Linked DNA regions of Homo sapiens: region 2 is linked to region 1. Evidence: fine-mapped expression QTL. A gene starts in region 1. The other region holds a variant in brackets. All regions are shown on one strand. Distances are between the middles of the regions. Region 1 holds the start of KAZN (kazrin, periplakin interacting protein). Region 2 overlaps KAZN (kazrin, periplakin interacting protein).

The links. PIP is the estimated chance that this variant, and not a neighbour inherited with it, causes the effect.
Region 2: its variant is fine-mapped to the expression of KAZN in whole blood (INTERVAL, PIP above 0.99).

The regions. Positions count from the first base shown.
Region 1 is chr1:14,595,655-14,601,030 of GRCh38, reverse strand. KAZN (kazrin, periplakin interacting protein) reads right to left here and starts at 2,346. Exons shown (of 15, transcript NM_201628.3): 1 at 1,808-2,346. The coding sequence starts at 2,033. RefSeq lists a silencer at 1,520-1,679.
Region 2 is chr1:14,869,935-14,875,310 of GRCh38, reverse strand. All of the region lies in intron 1 of KAZN (kazrin, periplakin interacting protein), which reads right to left. Among named protein-coding and RNA genes, the nearest start is that of KAZN, 270 kb to the right of the region's middle. The variant T/C (reference allele first, on the strand shown) is at 2,163.

The DNA of each region.
Region 1 (5,376 bases):
TTTGTGTAGGAAAAAAGAACAAGGAATCAGCCCCCTGTTGCTCCACTACAACAATTTAACCATCCGCGAGTATGTCAGTTTTCAAGTTGAGCATGTGGACATCATTACTGCGTTGACTGCCTTAGCCTGCCCAGTCTACAACCAGACCCAGGACTCAGATAAAAAGCCACTTAACTTTTCCTTCGCGGAGAAAGGGGCAGACAGTGGGAAATAAACGAGCATTGTTCAGTGTCCTTTACTATACAGCTTTTGATTCTTAGCAAAATGCCAGTTCTTAGCTATTTCTTTAATGTTAGCAGAGCCTCTGCCTATAAAAAGTGAAGCATTACCTTGCAGTCTGTCTTTTTTTTTTTTTTTTTTTTTTGCACAGGTTCCAGTGGAGAATGTTCTTTCGCACACAATGACATTGCAAGGATGACAAGAATAACCACATGTCAAGCTTGCAGCAAGCACTAGGACCACAACACCTTCTCACCATTACGTCATGGCTACTTCCTTACCAAAGTACTCCCCCCAATTCCTAAGACTTCCAACAGGCTCCGGGAGTACCAAGTTAAGATCTGACTTGGAATTCGACATAAAACTGCACGTGGGCAGGCTTCACATCTCACCTCAAAGAAAGCACACCTTCCCAGGAAGATAAGGTGGAAACAGAGACTGATGGAGAGAACCAGATTCTTAGGAAAACAGACTCTCTCAACCCTCAAGAGAAGCTCTTGAAATGACAACAGAACCAGAAAATCATTTTGAGCCACTGAGCAATTGGTACCTTGCACTTCAAGTGACATATTTAGACAAGTGGACCTCATGGACTGGAGATTTGTTTCTGTCCTGTTCTGGATTTCAGCAGTTTAATTTGCAATTCAAATGATATTAATAACCAGTGATACTGTTTCTTAAAGGGCAATTAGGCAAAAAGAAAAAAAAAATCCCCCAAAGCCTGCTTACCCTTTTACTTTCTAAGTCACAGAAACCAAACAGTACATTTTAGGGAATGCCCCATCCGCCTTTATGTCTTGCAGGGGGTTTCAGAGCTTAATCTCTGTCAATGTGAACACAAACCAACTGTCTTTTTCTTCCTCTTCTCTAAACCGCAGAGTCCCTTCAAACGGGCTCCCTGCAGCCCACCACCCTAAGCCTTCATTTCTCTACCGCTCAACCTTTGAGGTCTACAGTATCCCCCTGGAAAGTGCTCTCGGTGTTTATATTTGCGGAAATTTAAACTCCCTGCTGAGCTGAGCATCTACTGTTGCATCTATAGATTCCAATGCCTGAGAGACCTCAAATGAGAAGAAAATAAAGTCCAGATGCAACTGAGCCAAGGGATTTGGCATCCGCGGAGAAAAGTGCACAGCAGTGCAATCCTCTATCCCAACCACGGCGGCAGAGCCCGGAGCTCTCTCTGGGAAGGAGCCTAAGGAAGTGGGGGGAACTGTGCCATTCACCCCTGCGGGGGGTGGGGAAAAGGCCCCGGCATGAAAAGTTTGCACGGAGCTAGGGGGCTGGTGCCACGGAAAGGGCACTTTCTGATGCCGGAAGGGACCCGCCGGCTGCGCCTCGCTCAGGCTGGCCGGGGCCGGTGTGACCGTGTGACCCCGTGCACACTGCGCTCGGGTTTTCGTGAATGACAGCAGCCTGCAACTCCCAGCCGGAGAGCAGCGGTGGCCACCGCCGGGCGGAAAGGGTTACAAGCCAGAATGCAAAGCGATTTCGCCCCGGGTGTGGGGGACCCCGGGTCCCCGGCCACCTCCGAGGCCGGGCGTGCTCTGCTCGCCTTCCTCCGCCCTGGGCGCCGGGGCGATCCTACCTTGCGCTCCAAGCTGGGGGTTCTCCATGTTCGTCGCCGCCGAGTCCCCCGCCGCCGAGGCGCTGGCCGCGGCTCCCGGGCCCGGGCCGGGGCCGCCGCCGCCGCTCAGTTCCGCCAGTCTCCGGTTGGTGGCCGTGAGTTCGGCTCGCAGGTTGGTCACCTCCTGGCTGGCCGACTGGACCGCCCCATCGATGCGGAGCGCGAGCTGCTTATTGTCTTCCATCATGCTCAGGATTTTGGCCTGGGGGCGAGAGAGGTGACAAAGAGCTGCATGATGCGCGGGGGGCGCGCGGCCGGGCACCCCCGGCTCTACCTGTTGTGTCCTCCGCGGCCCGGCTTCGCCCGCGCCCCGACCCCCAGGCACCGGCAGCGCCGGTTCCTCCGGCACAGGAATGACAGCGGCGCCTCCAGCCCTAGCCGCGGCGGTGGCGAGGCGGCGGGGGGAGGAGGCGGAGGAGAAAAAAGAGGAGGAGAAGGAGGAGGAGGAGCAGCGATCGCCGAGACCCCGGCGGGCGGGCGCCGAGAGCTGCTCCAAGAAGGACACCGCGCGCCACCAGGCACTCTTTAAATGGAGCCTACCATTCGCCGCCGGCTCGGGAGGGGGTCTCGGTCGGAGGCTGGGGGCACCCTTGGCCTCCCGCGCCCCCGTACTTCGGAGACACACCCCCCGGGGGGGCGGAGGCGGCGGACGGCAGTCGGGAGGGGGCCAAGGTGGCGCCCCTGGCGAGGGGCAGGGGTCGCCTGGACCGAGGCCGGCCCTCTGTCCCCTCCCTTGAGCGGTGGGGCAGCCCCCGCCCTGGAGAACTGGTGCCCCGAGCCGTGCTAAGGTTGGGGAGGTGCTGGGTGCTCGGAAGAGAGGGTGCTTGGAAAGGGGGCCTCAGAGGGGAGCCGGGGTGGATCTCCATGGAAGGGAGACGCTTGCGCCAGCTCAGGAGTGGAGTTCGTGCTCCACCGGTTCCTTAAACTGCGAGTACGAAATCCCCAGAGGGGAGCTGAGCTGGTGCCCCGCGTGCCTCTCACTCTCCACCCCCCACCCGCAGGCCAGACCTGCGCTGCCCACCCCAGGAGGGAGCGCCTATCTTCCTCGGCGTGGGCCGCTGGTGCTCCCGCCTCTCCACAGCCCTAGCCCTGTGTGTGCATCCAGGTGGAGGAGCAGCCTTAGCCAGCTCCTAAGCTTCTTAGCCGGGCTGAATATTGGCGGGGACAGAGATGAGGTTGAGAGATAAGAAGGAAGGCGTCGATGGGGCTTCTTCCCTTTCTTCTACTGGGAGCAGAAGAGTTGAGCCCTGCTGCCTCAGTTTACCCATCCCCTCTTCACAGAAGAACTGAGGTAACCTGACGTTGATATGCCCTCTCCAGCTCCTCTTTCTCTCCCAGACCACAGGCTTTGCATTTTTCACTGGGGCCCTGGATTCCAGCCACCAGACCTTGTTACCATAGCAAACTTCATTCCATGCAAATAGGACAATTTAAAACAGCCAGCAACCCTCTGGTCAACAGGGCGCCATCATTCCAGCTCAGTCAACCTCCGGAGAGCAGCAAAGAGCAGATTGCAGAAGCCAGTGGGGTGCTGCGAGGAAAAATGAGGCTGCCCACCCTTCAGGTTCTTACAGGAAGCCCATAAGAACCAAGCAAAAACTGCGTGTAGAGTGCTTTTATATGCATTCTTATCTCTTGTGAGTGAGGATTATTATTCCCATTTTAGGGATAAGGAAACTGAGGCTCTGCATAGGGTTAAGCAATTTACTTAAGGGGCCCGCAGAAACCAGGTGACAGCGGGACTGGAAGAAAGTAATCATCTGATTGCAAGTTCCTCCTGCTGCGCCTTCAGGAGGCCTTGGATGATAGATTTCTCCCCCCTTTTCTGTGGAACCATAAAAACAGTCTTGCTCCATTCCCCTGTGACCACTAACAAGCTTTTGCAAGAGGGCAGGATTTGATGGTGGAGCATGTGGCAGGAAGACACAATTCTTCACTCTGTCCGCTCTGCTCAGCTAATGGGTCAGTTCGGGGATCGAACCCTGACCTTAACCTCATTAACACAAGTTCTTACCAACTGGACCAACCAAGGCACTTAGAACTGCTTAGTGTATCTGCAAACCAGGATTCAGTTCTTTGCAGTCTTTCAGTTACGTTATGGGGAGAGCATCAAAACTACAGAGCTGTGTGGGTCTTGAAAAGGGGGATGCCGTGGTGCAGCCATTGTGGAAAACATATTAGCAGTTCCTTGAACAGTTAAACATAGGATTACCATACGACCCAGCAAATCCACTCCTAGGTATATGTCCAAAACAAATATCCAAACAAAAATTTGTACATGAATGTTCATAGCAGCACTGTTCATTAGTAGCCAGAAGGCAGAAATAACCCAAATGTCCATCAACAGATGATTGGATGAACAAATTGCAGTATGCAATGGAATATTACTCAGCCGTGAAGAGTACTGATACATGCTACTACTACGTGGATGAAGCTCCAAAACATTATGTTAGTTGAAAGAAGCCCGACATAGAAGGTCACATATTATACGATTCAATTTATATGAAATATCCAGAATAAATAAATCCATGAAACAGGAAGCAGATTGGTGTTTGTCAGGGGCTGTGGGGAGGGAAGAATGAGAAGTAACTGCTTAATAGGTGCCGGGTGTTACTTTGTGCTGACTGATGAAAATGTTTTAGAACTAGACAGAGGTGGTGGTGGCACAACACGGTGAATGTACTAAGTGCCATTGAATTGTTCACTTTAAAGGGCTTAATTTCATGTTATGTAAATTTTACCTCAATCAAAAAGTCATATATGCAAATACACAAATAGAGAGGATGGGAATGTTTTGGAACTAGGGCTTCTGAGCAAACAGTTAAGAGTAGCTCTATTTAGAGGGCCGTGTGTGTGTGTGTGTGTGTGTGTGTGTGCGCACACGTGTGCGTGCACTCACACCTCTGGTATAGCACTCAGCAGAAGAAACAGTAATTTATCTGTTTATATGTCTCTCTCCCACTTCACTGGGAACTTGTGGGTGGGGGAAGGAGGGTTATCCGGCTTTTTATGTCATTCATCTTTGCGTCCTTGCCGCCCTAGCCCGTAGTAAGTGTTCTGTAAATGAATGCGTGTGAGTGTGTTTGTGTAGTAAACAAAGTGACCCAGTGTTACTCATTTTGCTCTTCAGTGAGATTATTCCCACACACCGGAATCTTCAAATCAAATCAAAACAAAAAAATCTAATAAGGAGAAAAGAAAAGACTCATTCCTTGAGCCCCTTCTCATCCCTCTATTTTTGAGGTTTCAAGAAGCTGCTTTAGAAACTCCTGGGGTGCCTCCTAGGATTTTAAGAATTTTATTTTTTGAGAGTTTTTTTTCCTAACATGAAAAAAAGGGGCTTTTTCCAGTTGTGTGTCCTTATGTTCACCCACACACCAAAGGACTAGATCTTAGATAGAAAGTCTGCAATCAATTAGCCTCTGCGGGTATACTTGATTTAAACCAAAAAGGTCTACCTTTCTTTTTTCTTTCTTTTTCTTTTTCTTTTTTTTTTTTTTTTTTGAGACGCAGTCTTGCTCTGTCGCCCA
Region 2 (5,376 bases), 270 kb before region 1:
TGCCCAGGATGGAGTGCAATGGCATGATCTCGGCCCACTGCAACCTCTGCCTCCCGGGTTCAAGTGATTCTCCTGCCTCAGCCTCCTGAGTAGCCGGGATTACAGGCATGCACCATCATGCCGGGATAATTTTGTATTTTTAGTAGAGACGGGGTTTCTCCATGTTGGTCAGGCTGGTCTTGAACTCCCAATCTCAGGTGATCTGCTTGCCTCAGCCTCCCAAAGTGCTGGGATTACAGGTGTGAGCCACCGCACCTGGCCACAAATTTACAGATATATCTGAGACCTTTCCTCATTTGGCTTTAACATGGAGGAATCTCCAGGGACCCCCACTTGCAGAGGTAGGTGGCTGCGCAAATCTGCTCTTCCAGAAAGGAAGGGAGATTTGGCAAAGCATCAGTTTGGCAAATGGAAATACAAAACCAAGTAAGTCTAGGATCCCAGAGTTAGTTTTTTTTCCTCTCATTTTCTTCCTTTCCTTTCCCTTCTCAAACCTTAAAAGGGGAAACATTCGACCAAGAGCATTATGGGTAATCCAGAGAAGGATAATCAAACCAGAAGATGTCAAGATTCTCATCTTATAGCAAACACAGGTCACACCAGGATTTCTGGGCTGGATCCAAAAAGTTGGGTGAATGGAGAAGGAGATTGGTTTTGACAGCTTTTGGTTCTGGCACACGGAGTGTCAGGCAACAGTTGCTTAATTGCTGTCACAGGTGACAAGATGGTGCAGTTACCTGCAGTAGTTAAGTTAGCTGCAGTAGTTAAGTTAGCCTTCCATCCATCTGTCCATCCATCCATCCATCCATCCATCCATCCATCCATCCATCCATCCATCCAGTCAGCCAGCTAGCTAGCGATTCATGCCACCATTCCTCTGAAACAACTCAAGGTCACCAATGACATTATTAAATCCAGTGGTCACCTTTCCAGCCCCTCTTACTTAATCTGTCAGCAGCATCTAACAGTTGAACACTCTCTTCCGGACACATGTCACTTCTCTACTGGTTTCTTCCTACCTCACCAGCTGTTCCTTTTCAGTAGCCTTTGTTGGATCCTCTTCCCCCTTCCGACCTCCAAATGTTGGAGGACTCCAGAGCTCAATCCTTGGATTCTCTATCTGTACTCACTTGTCTGGTATCGTGGCTTTAAATATCATCTGTATATGCTGATGATTCCCAAATGGATATGACCAGCCCTGTCCTCTCCCTTGAAATTTGGACAGTCAACTCTCAGATGATTAATAGACATCTCTAACCTAGCATACTCCAAACTGAGCTCCTGATTTCCTCCTGGCCCACCCCCTCTAAACTCGCTCCTGCCCCTGTCTTCTCTATTTCAAGAAATGACAAGTGCTTTCCTTCCAGTTACTCAAGGGTGCATCTCTGGAATCATTCTGGACTTCTCCTTTTTCTCCTACCCACCACATCCACCACGTCAGTTCTGCTGGCTCTACCTTTGAACTAGATACTGAATCTCGCCACTTTGCCCCACTTTGCACTGCTCTCTCCCTGGTCCCAGCCACCACAAACTCATGCCTAGATGATTGCAGTAGCTTCCTTATTTGTCTCCGGCACCTGCCTTTCCTCCCTAGAGTCTATTTTCAACACAACATAAATATATGTCAGATCCAATCCCTCCTCTTCTCAAAGCCCACCACTGGCTTCTCATTTCACTGAGAGGAAAGCAAAGTCTTCCAAAAGCCTGAAAGGCCCCTGGCTCCCTCTGACCTCCTCTCCTTTTACATTTCCTCTCCTCCCACACTCTGGTTTAGCCATGCTAGCCTTCTTCTGTTCTCTCTGCTTTTCCCTCAGATCTCTGCATAGCTCACTTCCTCCCTTCCCTCAAGGCTTTCTCAAATGCTGCTTTACCAAAGAGACCACCCTATGTGAAACAGCAGCCCCATTATTCTGCATCCCTCTTCCCCACTTTATTTTCCTTCATAGTGCTTACTGCTACTAGAAATTCTTTATGCTATTTGTTTTCTTCTTGAACATCTGACTCTCCCCTTTAGAATACAGTCTTTCTGAAAGCAGGAGCTTTGTCTGTGTTATTATTCTATCCCTAACTACTTGAATAATGCCTAGTGCATAGCAGGTGACAGAAGGAATGAATGGATGAATCCATCCACCCATCCATTCATCTATCTGTCCATCCATCCA[T/C]CCTTCCATCCATCCATCCATCCACCCATCCATTCATCTATCTGTCCATCCATCCATCCTTCCATCCATCCATCCATCCACCCATCCATCCATCCACCCACCGATTCATCTATCTATCCACCCACCCATCCATCCATCCATCCATCCATGTATCCTTCTATATGTTCTTCTACTCATCTTTCCATCCATCCATCCATCCATCCATCCATCTATCCATCCATCCATCCATCCACCCAACCATCCATTTATCCATATATCCATTCACCCATCCATCCACCCATCTATTCATCTATGTATCCGTCTGTACATCCATCCATTTGTCCTTCCACCCATCCATCTGTACGTCCATCCATCCATCCACCTATCCATTCATCTGTCCACTTGTCCATCCATCCATCGAACCATCCATCCATGCAATAATTTCTTACTGGGATTCTGTATAGGTTCATGAGAGATCCATTATATTAATCCTTCAAATGTGAAGGGAGATGTCCAGAAATAAGACCATTTTAAGGATTTCAGGCCCCACTTAGATCAGTGGTTACAATAATTATGAGCATGAGCAAGACTTATTCACACAGTACCTGGCTTCATCATTGGAGCTTTCAATTAAGGGATGCAATGAATATTCCCTTATAGCACTTCACAGTTTACAAAGCAAACTGTAATGATCCAATTGAATAATCTAAAACTGCACTGTACAATATGGTTGCTGTTAGCCATATGTGGCTGTTTGAATTTAAATTCATTGAAATTAAATAAAATAAAAAATTCAGTTCCTTAGTCACACTAGCTATATGTTAATTGCTTAATATCCACATGTGGCCAGTGGCTACCATATTAAATAGAAAGTTCTAGGAAGTTCTATCAGACAGCACTGCTCCATAACCACCCTAAAGTAGTAGTTTATTATATCCCATTTTGCAGACAAGAAAACAAACCCAGAGAAGTCCCCCAGTCAGTATGAAGCAGAGGCTAGTCTTGAAATCTAGTCTTCTGACTCCAAGTCCATTATTCCTTCCAAAGAAGGGTAATTTAAGGGACTGGTGCCCACACGCTTGCACCCTAATTCAGCTTCTGATACAGGAGTGCAGGAATTTAGATGTTTATCTGCCAGCAATAGCCTCTTGCCTTGCTGTCTGCGCATATTCATGCCCCCTTCTTCTGGTAGCTCCCAGATGATTAACAGACATCTCCAGCCTAGCATGCTCCAGACTGAGCTCCTGATTTCCTCCTGGCCCACCCCCTCTAAACACCCCCATTCTCCCGGGTCACCTTTCTCTCCCCTACTCTGAGTCCATGACACTGAGACTCACGTGGGGCTGACCCCACTCTGATTCCAAGGGTCAGCATGTGAGCCTGTGACTCAGATCTGGTCAATCAGGATACTATGCCTTCAGGCCTTGGTGAATGAATGCAGTCAAAGAATTAACACCACACAGCATCAAGACACAGAGATGCAGGTGCACACACACACACACACACACACACACACACACTGCTGCTCATGTAGATGTCTCAGGCTCACTGCAGGTGATATTTTTAGTTCAGGCTGTGGGAGTTGGGGGTCAGATGCACAGAAAGCATCTTCCTTACGCCTCCCCTGTTGCAGATGCACTGATAATAATGGTGTGGCACGCCCTATGGAGATAATAATTTGTGTTTGTAAAATCCCAGACCAGAGCGACTTGTACACTTTTCCCCAGTTTCCCATTCCTATTCGAAGAGGAAGCCCATCCTCCAGCTCCCTTGCTGCAGGGCAATTTGTATGCAAAAGGAAACCAGAGCTTTACCAGGAAGCAAACCTCCCTCTTGACTCTTGTTCCTCAAGCAGAAGGTTCATGGAAGGAATTGGGGAAGAGGCTGTGGAACATTCTAGAAGAGAGCTGATTGGGCAATTCCCCAAACCTAGGAAGGAGAGGTCTGCAGGACAACTGTGCCTGGACTGTTCCAGCATCGTGAGGAGGTGCAGGACTAAAGAGGGCACATAGGTGCCGTGTGGTGGTGGAGGGTCTGGACCTTGAACACTGGAGCTTCTGACTTCACTGAAGACACACCTGGGCTCAGGCAACAGCACTGTCCACCTCTTGGAGATCAGGTGGGCCTGGACAAAGAACAGGTGAGCTGAGACCATGGAGGATGGAAGCCTCCAGGCCCCTTCCTCATTCTCCAGATATCAGACAAGCCTTCTGGGTTATTGTGTGACCCCAGGCAGGTGTGGAGGCGGCCATTCATATGATGAGTCTTAATTTCTTATCATTCTGGTAGGGTTGGGCCTGGTGAGATTTCTTGCACACTTGGTTGTGGAGTAAGATTCATATATGTAATAATGAGAACAGTGTGGCCACAGTGACACATAGTGCCACACAACCTTCACAACAAATGCCCCCGATTGAGAGCTGACCATGGGCCATTAATTGTGCCAGATGTGAAGCTCCTCATCTCATGAAGCATCACAGCAGCTCATGAGGGAGTCACGGTCGTGAACCCCATTTAACAGATGAGGAAAACCGGGCCTGGGGGCTCACACCTGTAATCCCAGCACTTTGGGAAGCCAAGGTGGGCAGATCACTTGAGGTCAGGAGTTTGAGAGTAGCCTGGCCAACATGGAGAAACCGCGTCTCTACTAAAAATACAAAAATTAGCCAGTGTGGTAGTGCATGCCTGTAATCCCAGCTACTTGGAGGCTGAGGTGGGAGAATCACTCGTACCCAGGAGGTGGAGGTTGCAATGAGCCAAGATTGTGCCATTGCACTCCAGCCTGGGCGACAGAGCAAAACTCTGTCTCAATACAAACACACAAAAAACAAAAAACAGTTGAGGAAACAGGGCCAGAGAAGTTAAGCCATTTGTTCAAAGTCACACAGCAAGTGAGGAGCAGAGCTGGGACTCACCCTTCACCCTGTCTTAACTCCAAAGCCTGTGGTCTTTTGGTTTTGAGTAGAAGGGTCTGATTTTTCCCAGTATCCAGGCCCTAGACTCCATGTTCAAGGAATCTCCCCAGCAGTCGTCTGAAGGTCAAAGCCAAGGTCAAGGCCAGGCCCAGTGCTCCTGGACAGATACTGGGATTTTCCACAGAGATGAGACCCTGAGTTTTTCATCTCATTGGGGAAAAATCTGGACATTCTACCTTCCATGTGATTTTTCTTACCTCTCTGTCATTTTTCCCCGGATACCTTGGGATTAATGGCAAAGTAATGCCGGGGTGGGTGTT